Homo sapiens: one gene and its partners. The protein of the gene in region 4 purifies or fractionates together with the protein of the main gene of each other region. This does not show direct contact. Each region holds a gene or a part of one and is shown on either strand. Other genes may lie near its edges.

The links.
Region 1: the proteins of SERPING1 (region 4) and HRG purify together in Homo sapiens (affinity purification with mass spectrometry, with the first as the bait; one large-scale study listed by BioGRID). This does not show direct contact.
Region 2: the proteins of SERPING1 (region 4) and SELP purify together in Homo sapiens (affinity purification with western blotting, with the first as the bait; one study listed by BioGRID). This does not show direct contact.
Region 3: the proteins of SERPING1 (region 4) and SEL1L3 purify together in Homo sapiens (affinity purification with mass spectrometry; one large-scale study listed by BioGRID and IntAct). This does not show direct contact.

Annotation. Positions count from the first base shown.
Region 1 is NC_000003.12:186,672,503-186,676,968, forward strand, and holds part of HRG (histidine-rich glycoprotein precursor), read left to right. Parts: intron 1-284; coding exon 285-365; intron 366-2,586; coding exon 2,587-2,688; intron 2,689-4,466. UniProt on the Homo sapiens protein: Plasma glycoprotein that binds a number of ligands such as heme, heparin, heparan sulfate, thrombospondin, plasminogen, and divalent metal ions. Binds heparin and heparin/glycosaminoglycans in a zinc-dependent manner.
Region 2 is NC_000001.11:169,587,394-169,592,135, forward strand, and holds the end of SELP (P-selectin precursor), read right to left. Parts: intron 4,064-4,742; coding exon 4,033-4,063; intron 2,810-4,032; coding exon 2,755-2,809; 3' UTR 2,754-2,754; intron 2,477-2,753; exon of another isoform or gene 2,069-2,476; 3' UTR 1,456-2,068; downstream 1-1,455. UniProt on the Homo sapiens protein: Ca(2+)-dependent receptor for myeloid cells that binds to carbohydrates on neutrophils and monocytes. Mediates the interaction of activated endothelial cells or platelets with leukocytes. The ligand recognized is sialyl-Lewis X.
Region 3 is NC_000004.12:25,848,534-25,852,999, reverse strand, and holds part of SEL1L3 (protein sel-1 homolog 3), read left to right. Parts: intron 1-4,466.
Region 4 is NC_000011.10:57,595,142-57,601,279, forward strand, and holds the start of SERPING1 (plasma protease C1 inhibitor precursor), read left to right. Parts: upstream 1-2,543; 5' UTR 2,544-2,581; intron 2,582-3,069; exon of another isoform or gene 3,070-3,107; 5' UTR 3,108-3,129; coding exon 3,130-3,180; intron 3,181-4,737; coding exon 4,738-5,236; intron 5,237-6,138. UniProt on the Homo sapiens protein: Serine protease inhibitor, which acrs as a regulator of the classical complement pathway. Forms a proteolytically inactive stoichiometric complex with the C1r or C1s proteases. May also regulate blood coagulation, fibrinolysis and the generation of kinins.

The DNA.
Region 1 (4,466 bases), on a different chromosome or scaffold from region 4:
ATGAGAATGAAAACTCTGGGAAGAAGTTGGAGTGCAGGAGAGGTGATTTTTCACACTCTACTTTATCATATATTTATTATTTGAACCTTTTCAGTGAACTGGTATTCACCTTATCACTTAGGTGATACATTTTTAAAAGGCAGAAACCATTTTAAAAAATGACACATACTGGTGATTTTGAATTCTCATACTGCCTTAAAAAATATTGAATGGTAGTTATCTACTGCTTTTTTTTCCTTTTTCTTTGTCTGTTCTTGAAACTATTTTGATCCCATCTGTTCTAGAGAGGAGGGGAAGGAACTGGTTACTTCGTGGACTTCTCTGTGCGGAACTGCCCCAGACACCATTTCCCCAGACACCCCAATGTGAGTATAAGAAATGTCTGTGATCGTTGACTAGAGTCACAGAGAAAAAAGAAAGAGAAGAAGGAGAAGGAGAAGGAGAAGGAGAGGAAGGAGAAGAAGGAGAAGAGGAATGAGAAGGAGAAAATGAGGAGGAGGAGAAGGAGGAAGAAATGTCTGTGAAATACAAAGTATCATCTGGGAAGCACTTAGTACCTGCCAGGCACTCTTCTAAGTGATTTACACATCAGATAACTTATTGTTTTGTTTTGTTTTTGAGATGGAGTTTCGCTCTTGTTGCCCAGGTTGGAGTGCAATGGCACAGTGTCGGCTCACTGCAACCTCCGCCTCCCGGGTTCAGGCGATTCTCCTGCCTCAGCCTCCGGAGTAACTGGGATTACAGGCATGCACCACCACGCCCAGCTAATTTTTGTATTTTTAGTAGAGATGGGGTTTCACCATGTTGATCAGGTTGGTCTCAAACTCCTTATCTCAGGTGTCCACCCACTTCGGCTGGGATTACAAATCAAAGTGCTGGGGTTACAGGCGCAAGCCACCATGCCCAGCCTATGATAACTTATTAACCCTCACACTACCATATGAGATAGATACCATTTTTAATCCCAAATTAGCAGATAGGGGAACTGAGGCACAGAGAACATAAGCGAACCATAAGAACATGATTTTATAATATACATGATATATACCTAAACTTAAAACTAAGTTTCTAACTGATTAGGATTAAAGGCTTAGTTAGAACTATAGCAGTTCGTACTAAGACCCTACGCCAAGTGGTTTTATTAATTCCACATCATCACACTCACAGGAATCCCACTTGACAAATGAGGAGGTAACTGAAAATCAGCAAAGGAAAGGTCTTGCCGATGTTCACAACCAAGCTGAGATTAAAACTTAGTTATTCTCATACAAAGTCCAGTGGGATTTTTCCTCTAATCATTTACAAATAGATTCCCATGTACCTGCCAGAAGACATTATTAATACCACCTGGCATTTGCATGGTGACCTACAGTTAAAGAAACACCTCCACATCTGTTATTGCCAGGAGAGCCTCATGAAAATCCTGCTGACAAGGAAAAGCAAGTATCTGCCTACATTTCCTGTGACAAGGGGACCTGAAATTAAAACCACTTACCTAAAGGCACTTAGCTAGAGAGTGTTAGGAAATGGAATTTTAATTATGATGCCAAGTCCAGGATTTTTCTGAGGTTTAACAACACATTCTCCCTGGTCAAAAGGGAGAAACCATCCATTAGTACCTTTGTTAGCTCTTCTAATGTCCACACTGAACCAGGTCTAGAAACCTTCTTAGCGCCCACCAGAAAAGACACCTCCCTCCCCTACTCCTATGGCCAACAAACCCTTCATGATCTTGGTGTGGATAATGTAAACCCAGAGTTGAAGCACCAGAGCTGAAGAGGAGGCTCAGGGGTAAGTGTTTTACAGCATCCTCTTGTTTAATTAATCCCTCCCACAACCTGTGAGTACATAGTATTATCCCCATTTTACAATGGCTGACTTTCAGAAATCTTTTGTAACTTTCCCAAACTCAGACAACTAGGAAATGGAGAAGCCAGGATTAACATAGGTCTCTCTGATTCCCAAACTGTACTCAGAACCTCAATGCTTAGCAATTTCTTCTAGCAGACAGCCGTCCTCTTGTCCTAGTCGATCTTTCACAGGTGGGTTTAGGAGCATCTGGAGCACAGGAGTGGCAGCCAGTTGTAGCCCTGGCACTTGGGTGGAGTCAGCAGACACTTGCCTTGACAATGTCCATGAAAACCCATCTTTATGCTATACAGATGCCCTCCTGTCCAACACTTTCCTCCAAGGGACCAGCTGAAGTTGTAAAAATCCCTCTTTGACACCATTCCTCATTGTCCTAGGCACAGGCAACTGAGGTCTCCAGTGCAGAAGGGTTGGCCTAAAGGCAAGGCAGCAATGATGTGGTTTTCCTCATCATTTCCATCACCCATGGGGAAGCCCAGTGCTGGTGCCTGCTCATGAAAAAAACCACAGCAACTTTAGTGATACCCTTCACCACCTGCACTTTCCCCAAAGTGTTAACAAGGAAAGATTGCTGAACGACTGGTGGGAATATCTGATCATATTACCCTGATTTTTCTAAAGCACTTCTTCCTTTTCTGAATGTCTGGAAGCTAACTCTGGCTGGTCATCTTCACACCACCTGGACACACACACTAACAGCTCCTCATTCCTTTGTAGGTCTTTGGATTCTGCAGAGCAGATTTGTTCTATGATGTAGAAGCCTTGGACTTGGAAAGCCCGAAAAACCTTGTCATAAACTGTGAAGTCTTCGACCCTCAGGTGGGTTGTCTAAGCAGACTTTGTCATGGCAGTGCCAGATTAAGTGACATACGTACACAAATAGTGTTGTTGCTTCCTAAAGCTCTATGAGTGGGTGTGTGTGTGTGTGTGTGTGTGTGAGAGAGAGAGAGAGAGAGAGAGACAGAGACAGAGACAGAGAGAGGGAGACAGGGAGAGAGAGAAAGAGAGAGACAGACAGACATGCAAGAAAAAAGATACAGAGAGTATCCCACAACTGGGGAAAGGAGTGCAATTGCCAGATTACACAAAAAGTATGAAAACTTTTCCAAGAATTGAAGAGGGGTAACAATTGGCAGAAAATTAAAATCATGTCCAATTCAACCAAACTTGAAGGAATTTGAAAATGCTCTTTGTAGTCGGGACTCTAGTGCTGAGACTTAGTCATTCCTAAGCTTATATTATTGGGCATAGAATCTAAGAGGAATATATCAGCCTCAAATTTATTATGTAAATGTATATAAAATAAGATGCAAAACCATATTTTGCATCTGTCTCAGAAATCTTTGGTCTATTTTTTACATGAGTACAAAGATTTGCTTCACGAAATTTTTCATATCAGAAACAAAACTTAAAATAATCCAAACATCCAATCCCAAGTTAAAAAAAAGAAAAAGGAACAAAGGGCAGGATTGTCACCATGAACATGGCTCTGTCTTTTTTTTTTTTTTTTTTTTTGAGAAGGAGTTTTGCTCTTATTGCCCAGGCTGGAATACAATGGTGCCATCTCGGCTCACCACAACCTCTGCCTCCTGGGTTCAAGCGATTCTCCTGCCTCAGCCTCCTGAGTAGCTAGGATTACAGGCATGCGCCACCATACCTGGCTAATTTTGCATTTTTAGTAGAGAAGGGGTTTCTCCATGTTGGTCAGGTTGGTCTCAAACTCCTGACCTTAGGTGATCCACCTGCCTCAGCCTCCCAAAGTTCTGGGATTACAGACATGAGCCACCGTGCCCGGCCTCTGTAGCTATTTTTTAAAAAATTAAACTCTGAACAAGGAAGAGAGAGAAGAGGTCAAGTGTTCAGCCTTTAGGAGTAAGGGATGTTGATACCATCAAGCCTCAGTTAAGAATATCAGTTATAAGGCACTAGTTTTCCAGTGTTGGTCTACAGATGGGTGCCAGGTCATAATATTGTTTCACCACTCTGTGTAGTAAAAATGAAAAAAAAATAAGGATAATGAAGTTTTTTATATCTAACATTTATCCATCTAAAGGACAATCCTTTACTCTGATATTGTGTTTCTGGCTCTTTCTTTTTTTTTTAAATCAAAATTTCATTCCAGGCTGGGCATGGTGGCTCATGCCTGTAATCCCAGCACTTTGGGAAGCTGAGATGGGTGGATTACTTGAAACAAGGAGTTCAACATGGTGAAACCTGTCTCTACTAAAAATACAAAAATTAGGAGTCTGGGCAACAGAGTAAGACTATGTCTCAAAAAAAGAAAAAAAAAAATTAGGTGGGCATGGTGGCTTGGGCGTGTAGTCCCAGCTACTTGGGAGGCTGAGGCAGGAGAATTGCTTGAACCTGAGAGGTGGATGTTGCAATGAGCAGAGATCGCACCACTGCACTCCAGACTGGGTGACAGAGCGAGACTCAGTCTCAGAAAAAAAAAATAGTTTCTTTTGTGAAACAATGATGGTGGTAAATGATAGTTATTGTTAATATTTTAAATATCAACTGGGCTAGATAACAATTTGAGAATCTTTTTTCGTAATACTTTTTAAATTGATTTGTGGAATCTATGATCTGGGAGCCAT
Region 2 (4,742 bases), on a different chromosome or scaffold from region 4:
TCTACTAAAAATATAAAAAATTAGCCGGGCGTTGTGGTGGACACCTGTAATCCCACCTACTCGAGAGATTGAGGCAAGAGAATTGCTTGAACCTGGAAGGTGGAGTTTGCAGTGAGCTGATATCATGCCATTTTACTCCAGCCTGGGCAACGAGAGCAAAACTCCATCAAAAAAAAAAAAGAAAGAAAGAAAAAGAAAGAAAGAGAAAAAGAGAGAAAGAAGGAATCACAAATTTATTATTATGATCATATTTTCCTGTCTCCAGGACCCCTTGTATTCTTGTTTTTCTTGAAGGATCTGACTGTTTCACAGCACCTTAAATCTTACTTTGCTATTGATAGAGAATCTGCGAATTATATTGTCTGAGGCATCATAATGACTTGTCCTGGGTTCCCTGTATCTGCATGGCTCCAGGTTTCTGTCTTATGCTTTATGCATTCAGTACATTCAATAAATTGTAATCTGGCACCTCACATGAGGTCTCTGTTAATGATATCAGGCTCATCAACAGCCTCTTCCTCCCTCCCCACTCCCCCCAATATTCTGTCTTTTCTCCTGTGCTGATATTATTGCACCAACTTAGAATGCCCATTTTCTTCCTCTTTGCTGGGCCATTCTTTACAGTCCAGAGTTCTGCCTATCTCCCAGATTCTGGGCTCAAATTGGCTTTTCCATTTTATGAACTATTACAACACTATTCAAATTATATAATCATGTTAATTACCTTTTGTTATTCCATGCAGGTATCTATTGTCTCCCTAACTGAACAGTTGCTTACACTTCTTTATCTACAATATTATCAGTGTCTCCCAAAGTTGGCAGACCATCAGAATTCCCAGGGGAACTTTTACAAAATGTAGATTCTGACTCAGGAAACAGGGTTGAGACCAAAGTCCTAGAACACCTAGCCTACTGATTGACATTTAAATAAGCAGTCAGAGATGCTACTGGCAGTGTATCAGAGAAACGTTTTGAAAGCACTGTGTCCCTAAATCCCAAGGTTACTACCAGAATTGTTGCAACATTATTGTAACCTTTGAGTAGGCTGCTTTTTTATTTGCATGTTTGCTTATGTATATACAGTGTACATGACATATTTATTTAATTACATTTTACAGAGACAAGATGACTACTATAATTTTTGGCTCTCTATTTTTTTTAACATCAGTTCCAGATAAATACTATATAACTTTCAATGACCTATTTATTAAACATGGGATTTAAAGAACATGTAAAACACATTTGTTCTTCCCTGTAAAATATTAAGGTGATGAAGAATTTTTCCATTTCTCTGATTTTCTCTTGCAGTGTAGGGTGTGCGATACATATTTGCTGACTGAATGAATGGTTGAGGTGTAAATAGGACAACCATAATTGTGTGTTATTACACTGATGGTAAACAATGTGATGTATACAGACCTTACTGAACAAACCATAAAATAGAGGAACACGGCATTTGGGGAAAATTCTTTTAATTACGCATTTGAATATTGGTCTTTGGGTCATTTGAGGGACAGTGACTGGTGGCAGGAAGGTCCACGGTGACATGTGGCCTTCTAGCTTGATTCTTGGCCTTCTGCAGCCTCTGGTGCCATCCAGAGGACTCTCTGGAAGCCTCAGAGCAGAGGTCCAAGAGGCCTCATCAACAGCAACCACTGGAGACTCCAGAAGATGCTACAGGAATTTCTTCCAATTAGAGATGCCACCTGCTTTCCAACAAAGTGGAGAAAACCTTCCTTCAATCAAAAAATAAAGAGGTATTTTTATTTCTCCACAGTCTGGTCTTCTTGTGAGTCAGATGCTCCAGTCTCTTTGGTTCACTGGTATTTCAAGTAACAGGTGAGTCAAAGCACAGAGACTACTGCAGAAACATTTGCTCCTGGCTTCTGTGGCTTGTGTTACAGGAAGAGAAGAGGTGGGACAGGAAGGGGTGGTAGGTTGAGAATTTGAGATTGTACCACAATCCCAAACTCAGGAAACAGGGTTGGTCCAGAGCGGGTCCAACAGGCTGGTCCAGAGCTAATCTAAGGTAATTCCATGTCTTTGATTCATGGGTGTTTATGGAAACCTGCAGCAAATGCATTATAGTTAAGTCCAGTGTAGCAGGAAACTTGATGTTCACAACAGGATCATATGGAGGCTGAATGAGGAGACCAGGAAAAGGACAGGTCTCTGGAAATGAGACCAAAGAAATTTAAATAATTATCATTTCCTTAAAAAAATAAAAGAAAGAAAAAAATTGCTCATCATATCTACACCCTGAGGCGCAGCATAATCTTTTCTTTCTAGATTTCGAATATTCTGCCATTCAGGCTTTTTGTAGGACACTCAACTACCCACTTTTTGGGAGAGGGATAGCATCAGATTATTTTTGTTTTTCCAGCAGGTAGCATAGGGAATTGACTCCATAACAGTTCGTAAACATTTTTCAGCAGTCCTGACTTCTGCTTTGCAGGCAAGGCCACATCATCACCACCTAGCAGTTAATAATGGAAATGTTACACATCCTGAAATAAGTTATGTCTTGTTAGGACATTTCTGTCCTGGAGGAAATGAAAATCCTTTTGTGAACTCTTTTGTAACTCCATTGTCATACCTGTGTCCTACTGCCAACACAATTTCCTTCATGCCTGAAAATTTAATACATACTTAAAATTTAATATATGATTATGTAAAGAAAAGTTAAGCTTTATAGTCTTCCATTTTTCCCTAGTGTTCTATTTCCTTCAAAAATATCTTTATAGGGATCTTACCTTAAGGACTCGGGTCAAATGCAGCGTTTGTAAAAACTCCATATGTTCCTAGGTGGCTAAAGAACAGAAACACAAGGATGGCAACAATATACTGCTTAGTTCTCGACAACACAGTCCAACACATAGTATTTCCAGAAACCACAAATTACCATCCACCCTTGGAATTCTGCTTTAGAAAGGAAAGAAAAATAAATGCCAAAGAAATATTCGATATCCCACTTACCAGCTCTGGGTAATTTGCATTGCATTTTGCACCCACACTAAGTTATTGTTCATGCTTTATGTACTGAATACCTGTTATACCCTCTAAGTTGCTGCAACCTCTTCTAGGTGACAAGAGGTAGTTACAAAATTCTTGGCATTAACACTTGATAATCTAACGATAGTTTTCAAAGGGTGCAATATGACCCCTAGGGGTGTTTTTTGATTTTTATAACCAAGAGTTCTTCCGATATTGAGTGGGTATGGGGCAAGGGTGCTGGATGTCTACGACAATAGAGTTCATATAAGGATTTCCATGTCCTCCAGGACGGAAATGTCTTTAAAAGATATCCAGCACCCCTGCCTCCTGCCCACTCAATGTCAGTAGAACTCTTGTTCATTACAAAAATAAAAAAATACCCTTGGGGGCATACTGTCCCTTTTTGAAAACTATTGCTAGATTATAAATAGCAAGGGGTACAGGACACAAAAGAATTGTCCAACATCCCACATAACTTTGGAATATCTGCTCGATATTCATACAGGTTAAAAATCTCTGAGCCTGGAACTCAAGCACTTTACATGTAAATATTAAGCATTTTTTTGCATCTTTAAAATGCAATTGCCATATGAATCAAAGGACAATTATCACAGGTTTTCAGACTCTTTACCGGAGTTGTTCACCATGTTGAAAAATTAGGCTGGTGTTGGCCACAGTTCTAATGCTCTTTGAGTCACTAATACAACATTCCCCCATCAGTCCACCTGCGTGGGCGTTGCTTTCCTAGTGATTCTGTGGAAGGTGCACGCTTCTGATGACCTCATTGCATCTACTGGCACAGCGCCTAAGTTTTTGCATCTTGTTTTTATTATAAATTACTTTTCATTTTATTCCTACTTTATATTTTAATTAGAATATTTGTTATCTGTGTATTTTACTTCAGAGTAGAAAAGAAGACATTGCAAAAGACATTGTAAAAAGGAGGCAGGCATTGCATGTAATCATTCTGACATATTACAGTGAATTATAAAGTTAAGGTAGCAAAATTTACTCAATCATAAAACATTTCTACCTTACCTGTGAGGATTCAAGGGGCATTTCCCATCATCTAAAATCAGCAAGAAGACAAGAATGAATGATTAAAAAAAAAAAACAAGATGAAAGAGAGGGTCATTAAGGATAGAAATTACTGGGGAAAACCAGTAGACTGATTTTCAGGAGGGCTCATTATAAGGGGAATATTGGGAACAGTTTCTCCCTGAAAGGTAGAAAGTGTTTTAGGCTAAATTAAACATTCGACAATATTTAACTCCAGAGTCCTGTCACTTTCTTCCTCCTTCCTTTCAGTAAATACATAAATCAATTTCTTTTGAGGGCATCTTGTGTCACTTGCCCTCAGCCCTTAGCTGAGCAAGCTAATCACATACATGAATCCAAACCAACAGAACAGTGGATGTTTTTCCTCCCTGGTAGCATATTTTTATCCAAATAACAGACTCTCATAGTTGAATTTTCAGCTATGGCTGCAGCATTTTCCTCTTATTTGGCCATAGAAAACTTCAAAGCCTAAAATCAAATTGGGAGAAGCTGAGGAAAAAAGCTCCCATCCCCAACAAATGAATGTATTTATTATTAAAAATATTGGGGCATGAGTGGCCATTTGTCCTTCTCCACTGTTAGAGGGTCCTCTGGAAATGTCTCAAAGTCAAAGAAAGGACTTGGGGGAAACATCAAGATTAGAGTGATTCCTACATGATCATAGAGATTAAGGTCTAGGAGCTCTTGCC
Region 3 (4,466 bases), on a different chromosome or scaffold from region 4:
GTGGACTGTTGCATTTTTAGCAGTAAGATGTAAAATAATGAACACGGTTATTATGAACTGCACTTTTCTAGTAAAATCAAATGGTCATTACCCTGGCATTCTGTTTAAAAGAGGTTTTCACTGGAGATCCTAGCATCAGCACTAAAAATCTGACACCCCTTATCCCTACTCAAAAAATTATCAAAGTGGGAGAGCTGAGCCTGGGTGAGTTTTTAAGGTATACATGAAAGGAATGAGGAAGAGGTTTTAAGTTGTTCTTTGGGAAAGAACAAAGTGTGATATTTAATACACCTCTGCATGTCCTGGGTGCTGGGCTGCCCTTTGTCTCACAAAATAAGCAAATGTCTTATTTGACATTTGACTTATTTGTGGGATTAGTGAGGGAAACATTCGGGGCATTGCTTTGGAATAAGGCGTGTTGGCCACCCATTGGCTGGTTCGGCTTCCGCCAGCACCAGCGATCCCTGGCCTTGGGTGAAACTCTGTTGTGGACTTAACACTGTGATTTGCATCTTGAGAATGGGGGCGACATCTTGGCATATCTGGCTGAATTAATAAACCAGCACTTATGGACAAATGCTGGGTATATCCCTATTCATGTGGAAGCAGAATTTAGTCTAGAGTTTCCAGGAGGCCATGGAATGGTGACCATTAGTCACCATTGATATCATTTGCTATGGCGTGGGGAAGGTGGGAGTGGGTGGGTGGCTAGAAAAGGAGCCAGGTTTCTGGGCTTGCCTTTGCTCACCCACCAGCTGGGTGGTGTTGGAGAATGTCACCTCTTGATTGTCATTTCCTCGTCTGCAGAATAAGAGAGTAGACTGGCTTGTCACCAGACTCATCCACTGTAACATTCTCTGCTTCTAATTATGAGATGATTTTTATATGTGTTTCCTCCCTGTAATCTGGCAGCATAAACGAGAACATAAAACAATTAAACCTCTCCTGGGGGGGGTGGCATGGACAGTTTGCATTGTACCCCCTTCTTTATATATCTCTTCCCACAGGTTGCCCATGACTGGTCAAAAGGAATCACCAGCTCTTCTCCTATTCCCTCTGCCATTTGCAGAAGACATAGTTTCCACTGTGACCTTTTTTTTTTTTTTTTTTTTGAGACAGAGTCTCACTCTGTCGCCAGGCTGGAATGCAGTGGCACGATATCGGCTCACTGCAACCTCTGCCTCCCGGGTTCAAGCAATTCTCCTGCCTCAGTCTCCCCAGTAGCTGGGACTACAGACATGTGCCACCACGCCCGGTTAATATTTGTATTTTTAGAAGAGACGGGGTTTCACCATGCTGGCCAGGATGGTCTCGATCTCTTGACTTCGTGAACCGCCCACCTCAGCCTCCCAAAGTGCTGGGATTACAGGCGTGATCCACCATGCCCGGCCCACTTTGACCTTTTAGGACAGTTGCTTTCTCCTCACCTACTTAAAAAAAAATTGTGTAGTACACAATTCAAAAGTTAGGGAAGGATATACAGTGCATCTTTCTCTCTTATTCTGTCTCCTGGTCACCTCATTCTTATCCGTGTAAGCAACCAGTGATATGTGTATTCAAGTGACTATACACATGTACATATATATGTGTGTGTGTGGTGTGAGTGTGTATTTAATCCAAATGGTATTTCTGAGTCTGTTTTTTAAAAGCAAGCAAAAAAATGGGAAGTGACTGCCAGTGGGTACTGGGTTTCATTTTGGGGCAATGAAATGTTTGAAAATTGATTGTTGTAATGATTGATTGTTGACTAACTCTGTAAATCTACTAGAAAACGTTGCAATTTACACTTTCAGTGTGTGAATTGTGTGGTGTGAATTATATTCCAACAAACCTGAAATTTCAAAACCTGGGCTGGGCACAGTGGCTCACGCCTGTAATCCCAGCACTTTGGGAGGCTGAAGTGGGTGGATTACTTGAGGTCAGGAGTTCGAGACCAGCCTGGCCAACATCGTGAAACCCCATCTCTACTAAAAATACAAAAATCAGCCGGGTGTGGTGGCAGGTGCCTGTAATCCCAGCTACTCGGGAGGCTGAGGCAGGAGAATCACTTGAACCTGGGCGGCAGAGGTTGCAGTGAGCCGAGATTGCGTCACTGCACTCCAGCCTGGATGACAGAGTGAGACTCCAACTCAAAAAAAAAAACAAACAAACAAAAAAAAGAAAACCCTGAAAATTCAAAAACAAACAAAAAAACCAGACAGAAAACCCTTTGCGATCATTCCATTTTCTGTACGTGAAGAGCTTCCTCCTTTTAATAGCTGTATGGTACTCCATGAGTGGATGTACTATTTTTATTTAACCAGCTCCCTCTTGATGAGTTTAGGCTTCCCTATCTCCTGCAATTGCAAACTGTACTGGTGTGAAAATCTACACAAACATCATTTTGCACAACTTTCAGTGTATTAGTAGGTTAAACTCCTAGTAGTGAAATTATTGGTCCAGAGGGTGAGTGCATTTATAATTTTAGTAGATATTACTTGATTGGCCTCATAAAGATTAGAGATTACTGCCACCAACAATACATAAGAGGGCATGCTTCCTACACTCTGGTCAGTACGATGTGTTATCTGACTTTTTGATCTTTGCAAATCTAGTAGGGAAAAAATGGTATCTCAGTGCAGTTTCAGTTTGCATTTATCTTACTATGAATGAGCATTTACTTGTTGATTAGCTATGTCATTTGCTCATTTTTGTATGAATTGTTAGCCTTGTTTCTAATTGACATTGACTATCAGTTGCTTTAAAAGGGAGACACCACCCCCTTGTACAGAAACCTTTGTTGATTCTTTGCTGTCGGTAGAATAAAAGTTCACATTCGTTGGGCTGGGACTCAATGTTCTCCAGGGCCAAACTCTACTTTTCTTTTTAACCTCATACCTGCGTGTCCACATAGCTGCTTGCTATTCCCCAAGTACACCTGCATTCCCCTGCCTCTTGCCCGGCTTATGCTGTTCACACCCCTTGCAGTGCCTTTCCCTTGTGTCTCTACGTGAAGAACTTCTTTTCGTCCCTCAAAGCCCAACTGAGATACCGTTTCTTCCATAAAGCCTATCCCAGACCTTCCAGTTAGAATTATTCTCTCTCAGTGCTATGCACCCTTGGGCTTGTTTACAGTTTGATGGGAACACTGACCACGTTTCGCCTGTATTGCCATTATTTATAGACACGATTCCTTGATACCAAATTTCATGTCTTGTCCATCTTTGCCTCTCCCGCAGCTCTAAGTCAGAATTGAAAAAAGGAGTCCTTATTTTTTTCCTCAGAGGAGACCAAAGTGACTTTTTTCTTTTAAATTGTGGTAAAAATATGCAAGCATTAAAATGTACCTTTTTAATCATTTCTAAGTGTACAGTTCAGTGGTGTTAAGGACATTCCCACTGTTTTGCAACCAGCACCACTTTCTGTCTCACTATTTCATCGTCCCAAACTGAAACTCTGGACCCATTAAATCCTAACTCCTCAATCCCCTCTTCCCTTAGGCCCTGGTAACCTCTTTTCTCCCTTCTGTCTCTGTGAGTTTGACTACTCTAGGTGCTTCATGTAGGCGGATGATATAATGTCTGTTCTCTTGTGTCTAGCTTGTTTTCCTTAGCCTCATCTCCTCAAAGTTCATCCATTTTACAGCATACATCAGAATTTCATTCCCTTTTATGGGCTGAATAATATTCCATCCCATGTATATACCACATTTTTTCTACCCATTCATCCATGGATGGACCCTTGGGGTTGCTTTTGGCTAGCGTGAGTAATGCTGTTATGAACACGGGTGTACAAACATCTCTTCAAGTCCTTGCTTTAAATTTTTGGGGTGTATATCCAGAAGTGGAATTGCTGGGTCTGATCATACCATAATTCTTTTTTGAGATGGAGTCTCACTCTGTTGCCCAGGGTGGAGTGCAGTGGTGTGATCTTGGCTCACTGCAACCTCCACCTCCCGGGTTCAAGTGATTCTCCTGCCTCAGCCTCCCAAGGAGCTGGAATTACAGGTGTGCACCACCTTGCCCAACTGATTTTTGTATTATTAGTAAAGACAGGGTTTCACCATGTTGACCAGGCTGGTCTTGAACTCCTGACCTCAAGTGATCCACCCACCTGGGCCTCCCAAAGTTATGGGATTGAAGGCATGAGCCACCACGCCCAGTCTGATCATATGATAATTCTGTGTCTAATTTATTTGAGGAACTGCTATACTATTTTCCATAGTAGCCACACCATTTTACATTCTCATTAAGAGTGCATAAGGGTTCCAGTTTCTCCACATCTTCACCAACACTTGTTATTTTCTCTCTGTGTGTATGCGTTGTGTGTGTTTAATAATAGCCACCCTAATGGATATGCAGTGGTCCAAAGTGACCTTTTTCTATTGTGTTTTGGATACTTGAATCACAAAGTCATATTTAGGAGAGCTCTTAGCACTCACATATCAGCACCTCATGCTCAAAACCTTGCATTGATTTCATGACCAG
Region 4 (6,138 bases):
GGCGAGAGAAGCCATGTGCACCTACAACATGAGGGAAGAGGGATTCTGTGGGTTCAACTCTCCTCAGTCACCAGAAGGAAAGGTCCTTGTTACAGAGAAATCCTAGACCTGCTCCCAGTGGGAAGAGAACTGAATTCACAACCTTACACTGATTGAATATCTCAACATCCACACTAGGGAGAAATTCCGCAAACATCCTGATTAAGTCAGTTTCAGCTCCAGCTTCAGCAGGCAGGGGAGACTTCACAAAGCAGACATCATTTAAATGTGCAGAGTGCAGGAATGGCTTTGGCCAGAGAGCTATTATAGATGGCTGAAGGAGGTAGACCCACAAGCTGGGAAAACCTCTCCACTGGGGCTTTTTCACCCTGGAACTTTGGCCCACAAAGCATCGTACTCTTGCAGCTGTACCCAGAATATTCCCTTTGCTGTCTGCTTCAGGTTAGCCCCTGGTGTGTGTCAATAATTTGTAAGGGTTAATAAAGAACTGTTGGGTCAAACAGACCTGGTCCACATCCTGGCTCTGTCACTTACTGGCTTTGTGATATTAGGTAGATCAATTAATTTCTCTGAGCCTCATTTTAACTTGTTTAAGATGGGATTAATATAGCACCTACTTCATAGGTGATGAGAATTAGTGAGAGGATGAATGTAAATGCATGGTGAGCACTCAGTGAATTAGGTTGCTTTCCACCACCTTCTTTTCCTTTGGCTGACCCATTTCCCAGAATCCACAAGCTCATAGTCCCTTTGAGCCCACCAGCTTGAGCACTGGGGATGGAGAAACGTTGTTTTGTGTGCAGCTGTTCAAACGATGGCTCTGATGTTATATAACTTTCCCATGGTTTAGGAGGTTCCCAAGTGGCTTCAGAGAATAAAGCACAAAGCTGGGGAAGACTCTTTCTGGGTCTTGTCCAAGGACCCCCGAGGAGACACACAAATATTCTCCTGTTTCTGTCCTTGGTCAGTCCCTTAGAGTAGCAGTTCTGGTGCTAGCAGCAAACTTTCCTGAATGCTCCAAACACAGCCAGAGGATAGGCCTGCAGTGAGATGACGATAGAACATGATAGCTATATTAGGTCATCAGAGACAACCTGTTTGTTTTGCAGATGAGGCAGAGTTATCAGATTTAGCAAAAATACAAAATGCCAATTATATTTGAATTTCAGATACACAACAATGACAACAAAATTTATTTTACCATAAGTATATTCCAATGTAAGCATTTTTACCATAAGTATATCCCAATGTAAGTTTTTTTTTTTTTTTTTAGAGACAGCAAGTGTCTTACTCTGTTGCCCAGGCTGGAGTGCAGTGGCATGATCAATGCTAACTGCAGCCTTGAACTCCTGGGCTCAAGGGATCCTCCTGCCTCAGTCTCCTAAAAGGCTGGGATTACAGGTATGAACCCCCAGGCCTGCCTACTTCGTGTGTTTTATCTGGCAATGCTGAGAGGACAGCTAGATGTCGAGGACAGCCAGATTTCGAGGACAGCCAGACGTCAAGGGGGAAAGCAACTTGCTGGCTCACACAGCCAGCCAGGTCTATTGTGGAGCCCTAGTCGCAAACACATACACCCCAGCTTTCAAGTTTTTAAATATTTATTTAGTTAGTTATTTGTTTTTTGAGACAGTCTTGCTCTGTCACCCAGGCTGGAGTGCAGTGGTGCAATTTCAGCTCACTGCAACCTCTGCCTCCCAGATTCAAGTGATTGTGCCTCAGCCTCCCTAGTAGCTGGGACTACATGTGCGCGCCTGCACTGCCCAGCTAATTTTTGTACTTTTAGCGGAAACGGGGTTTCCCCATATTGGCCAGAGTGGTCTCAAACTCCTGACCTCAAGTGATCCACCCACCTCGGCCTCCCAAAGTGCTGGGATTACAGGCGTGAGCCACCGTGCCCGGCTAGCTTTTTTTTTTTTTTTTTTTTTAATTAGGTTGAATGCTTGTTGAGCTGGGTGCCTCACATCCGTTGTCTGTTATACAAAGAACTACTGATTATGGGTCTCTACGAGCAAAAATGGCAGAACACCTACAGGGCACAGGGGAGATGGGAGCAGGGATTAGGCTTCAGAATACTTCTCCAAATGAGGGTGATCAGGGCCCGACATTTCACTGCTCTAAGGCTCAGTATCTTAACTATCAAATGGGTACAATGGGGCACAAAGGGTTACTTTGAGGAATAACGGAGGTGAGCAATTTCCAAAAAGTTCATTCCTTTAAAAACTGCGGAGCACATTTTGTGTACATGCTGTTTTTATTGTTACTCATGAAGACGCGGGGGAAGCTTTGGTTGTGTAAAGCTGAGAACTGCACCCAAGCTTCCCCGTTCACCCCACCTACCAGGGGATTTGGGCTAAATTCCTGGCCTGGCCCACAAAGAAGACCAAGCGGTCAGTCCCATTCCGTCCCATCCTGATTTACAGGAACTCACACCAGCGATCAATCTTCCTTAATTTGTAACTGGGCAGTGTCCCGGGCCAGCCAATAGCTAAGACTGCCCCCCCCGCACCCCACCCTCCCTGACCCTGGGGGACTCTCTACTCAGTCTGCACTGGAGCTGCCTGGTGACCAGAAGTTTGGAGTAGGTTTGGTGCTGGGCAGGGGTGGGGAGTAGGGTGGAAAGCATGGAGTGAAGAGGTCTAGGGAGGGGGTCTCCTCACCCCCGCCTTCCTGCCCGCCTTGATCTCGGGGGTCTCTATAGGCTTGCTTCCACCTGGGACTTCTGCCTCCTCCTACCCCAGCCCCTCCCGCCTCAGGCCTGTTGTGCTCAGCCCCCCAGGACCTCCCCTCCCCCACGCCTCTGGCCTCATTGTTTGGTTAAAGCAGGACCCCCTCCCCCTCCCACCACCTCCCCTCCGACTGAACAGATGGACAGAGACCCGGGCCCACGGGGAGAGGAAGGGCCAGCCGGTGCCGGGAAAGGGAAGCGGTTTGGGGAAAACAAAACAGAGGGAGGAGCCAGGGAGAAGGTGGCCCCAGGAGGGAGGAGGAGGGAATTCGCTAAGAGGGACTGGGGCCTGAGACGGAATGGGGGCGGGCCCCGGGCGGGGTGGGGGCCCCTGGGCTCCCAGGGTGGGAGCTGGCTCCGAGGCTGGCTGGCTCCGCAGGTCCGCTGACGTCGCCGCCCAGATGGCCTCCAGGCTGACCCTGCTGACCCTCCTGCTGCTGCTGCTGGCTGGGGTATGTGGTCCCTTGTGGGATGGGGGACGGGGGTGGAGACGGGAGGCGGGATGGTGCGGGGTGCGGGCGGTGGCTGAGGATTAACCCTTCAGGCTCCGGGGAATGAGGAGAGCTCCTCTTGGGATCATTGAGTGTGATCCTTGCACACGCACTCGTAGATGGTGGAAAGAGCTCAGGACTCAGACAGATGCAAGTTCTAATCTTGGCGGGCCATGTAGGAGCTGCGCAGCGTGGTCCTGAGGACGTCACTTTTCTCAGCCTACTCCTCCTGATTTATAAAATGTTGAATAAACAGATCCCACCCTGTCCACCAAGCAGGCTTGGCAGGAGGATCACATAGGGCAAGGAGATGGGAAGCATTTTGTGATATCAAAGCAAGAGTTTGTTGTAGAAAAGAGCTGTGGGGAGGAGAGGTTTGGCTGCTGTGACACAGACGGTGGTCCCAGGCTAGGGCCTGTGAAGACAGGGAAGAATGGTAGCAAACATACGTGGGTCTGGGTGGGGGTCAATAGCAGTGAGAGGTCCCAGTGGTCTGGGAGGTCATGGACTAGAAATAAGGCTAAGAAGTGCAGGATCCCAGGAGAAAGGTAGGTAGGGGTGTGTGTATGTGCGTGTGTGTGTGTGTGCACGCGCAAGTTGGTATCACATACTCAGCAGATGATGTAGTTATGAGCAGGGAGTTTGGAATCAGAGACCTTGTTTTGACCCCTAGCTGTTTCTCCCATTTCTGTGAGACCCTGGACTAGTTAATATGTGTCGGTATGAGTTTCTCTACCTGTGAAATGGAGCTAATGCGTGGTTTCTCAGTGGAGGATCTGTTGACATTGGGGCTGGATAATTCATTGCTGAGGGGCTACCCTGCGCATTTTAGGATGTTTTGCAGTATATCTCTAGCCTCTACGCACTAGATTCCGGTAGCATCTTCCCTGCTGTCTCCCTGTGACAACCAAAAATGTCTCTGGACATTGCCAAATATCCCCTGGGAGTCAAAATTGTTTCAGAGCCGCTGGCCTATACTACTTCTCTCTCCCTCCCTTCCTGCCTCCCTTCTTTCCTCCTTCCCTTTCTTCGTTCCCTTCCTAATGTGTACTGTTTTTCCACACCCACTAATGGGTTGCAACCCACAGTTTAAAAATTTACTGTTCTAAATCAAGGAGCACAAGTTCAAATGTCTGTACTAGCCAAGCAAGTGAGTCAAACAGGTAGATATTTACAGGAAATTGCAAGAACATAGATAAATGACAACACTCAGCTTCACTGTTTGGAAAACAACTTCCTACAGGGCAGTAATTGGTCAGAGATTACAGAGTCCCTGACTATCCCTCATCTTCTGCAGAGCACATTCCTGTGCACCCCCACCCTCACCCTGTATTGCCCCTTCTCTGAGGAATTAGTGGTGGTGGTTCTAAGACAGATTGCTCATCTGCCGCACTGTCAGAAATTACTCTCTTGTACAGGACATTTTCCACATCCACACCTTCTCTTCCTGCTTTGAGTATTTTAGAGGACTGTGCCTCGTAGTAAGAAAAAAATGAAACTCAGTTTCTTGAACCACAGGATAGAGCCTCCTCAAATCCAAATGCTACCAGCTCCAGCTCCCAGGATCCAGAGAGTTTGCAAGACAGAGGCGAAGGGAAGGTCGCAACAACAGTTATCTCCAAGATGCTATTCGTTGAACCCATCCTGGAGGTTTCCAGCTTGCCGACAACCAACTCAACAACCAATTCAGCCACCAAAATAACAGCTAATACCACTGATGAACCCACCACACAACCCACCACAGAGCCCACCACCCAACCCACCATCCAACCCACCCAACCAACTACCCAGCTCCCAACAGATTCTCCTACCCAGCCCACTACTGGGTCCTTCTGCCCAGGACCTGTTACTCTCTGCTCTGACTTGGAGAGTCATTCAACAGAGGCCGTGTTGGGGGATGCTTTGGTAGATTTCTCCCTGAAGCTCTACCACGCCTTCTCAGCAATGAAGAAGGTGGAGACCAACATGGCCTTTTCCCCATTCAGCATCGCCAGCCTCCTTACCCAGGTCCTGCTCGGTAAGACCCTGCTTGAATTCTCTCCAGGTCATTTGTTGGACACTCCCATAAGAGTCACCAATCCAGACACTTACAAAGCCATGCCTCTGGGAAGAAGCTGTAAAAATGGGCTATTATATATTGGGGGTGGGGTAGAGGGATGTATCTTTTCATTCTTGAACATTCCATCATTTCACAGTGATGTAATAGGCACGATTGCTTGTAAAACTCTGTGACTATACAAGAACATATAAAATAAGGTCGCAGCCACTAACCATGTTTCATGGCAAGGAGAGGTGATAAGAAAGATGAAATTAGGCGCAGTGGCTCACGCCTGTAATCCCAGCACTTTGGGAGGCCAAGGCGGGTGGATCACCTGAGGTCAGGAGTTCAAGACCAGCCTGGCCAACATGGTGAAACCCTGTCTCTACTAAAAATACAAAAATTATCAGGGAGTGGTGGTGCATGCCTGTAATCCCAGCTACTTGGGCAGCTGAGGCAGGAGAATCGCTTGAACCCAGGAGGTGGAGGTTGCAGTGAGCCGAGACCGCACCATTGCACTACAGTCTGGGTGACAGAGCGAGACTCTGTCTCAAAAAAAAAAAAAAATTATCAGAGATAGACCTAGAGTAGATGTGGTTAGTACTGCCTTCTAGCTCTGTGACCTTGGGCAGATCACTTTAACCTCTCTGAGCCTTGAGTCCTCTTGTGTAAAATAGTGATGATGCTATCTACCTCAAAAGATTAAGAAGCAGAAAGCCAGGCCGGATGCGGTGGTTCACACCTGTAATCCCAGCATTTTAGGAGGCCGAGGCGGGCAGATCACGAGGTCAGGAGTTCGAGACCAGCCTGACTAACATGGTGAAACCCCGTCTCTACTAAAAATAAAAAGAAATTAGCTAGGCATGGTGGTGCACACCTGT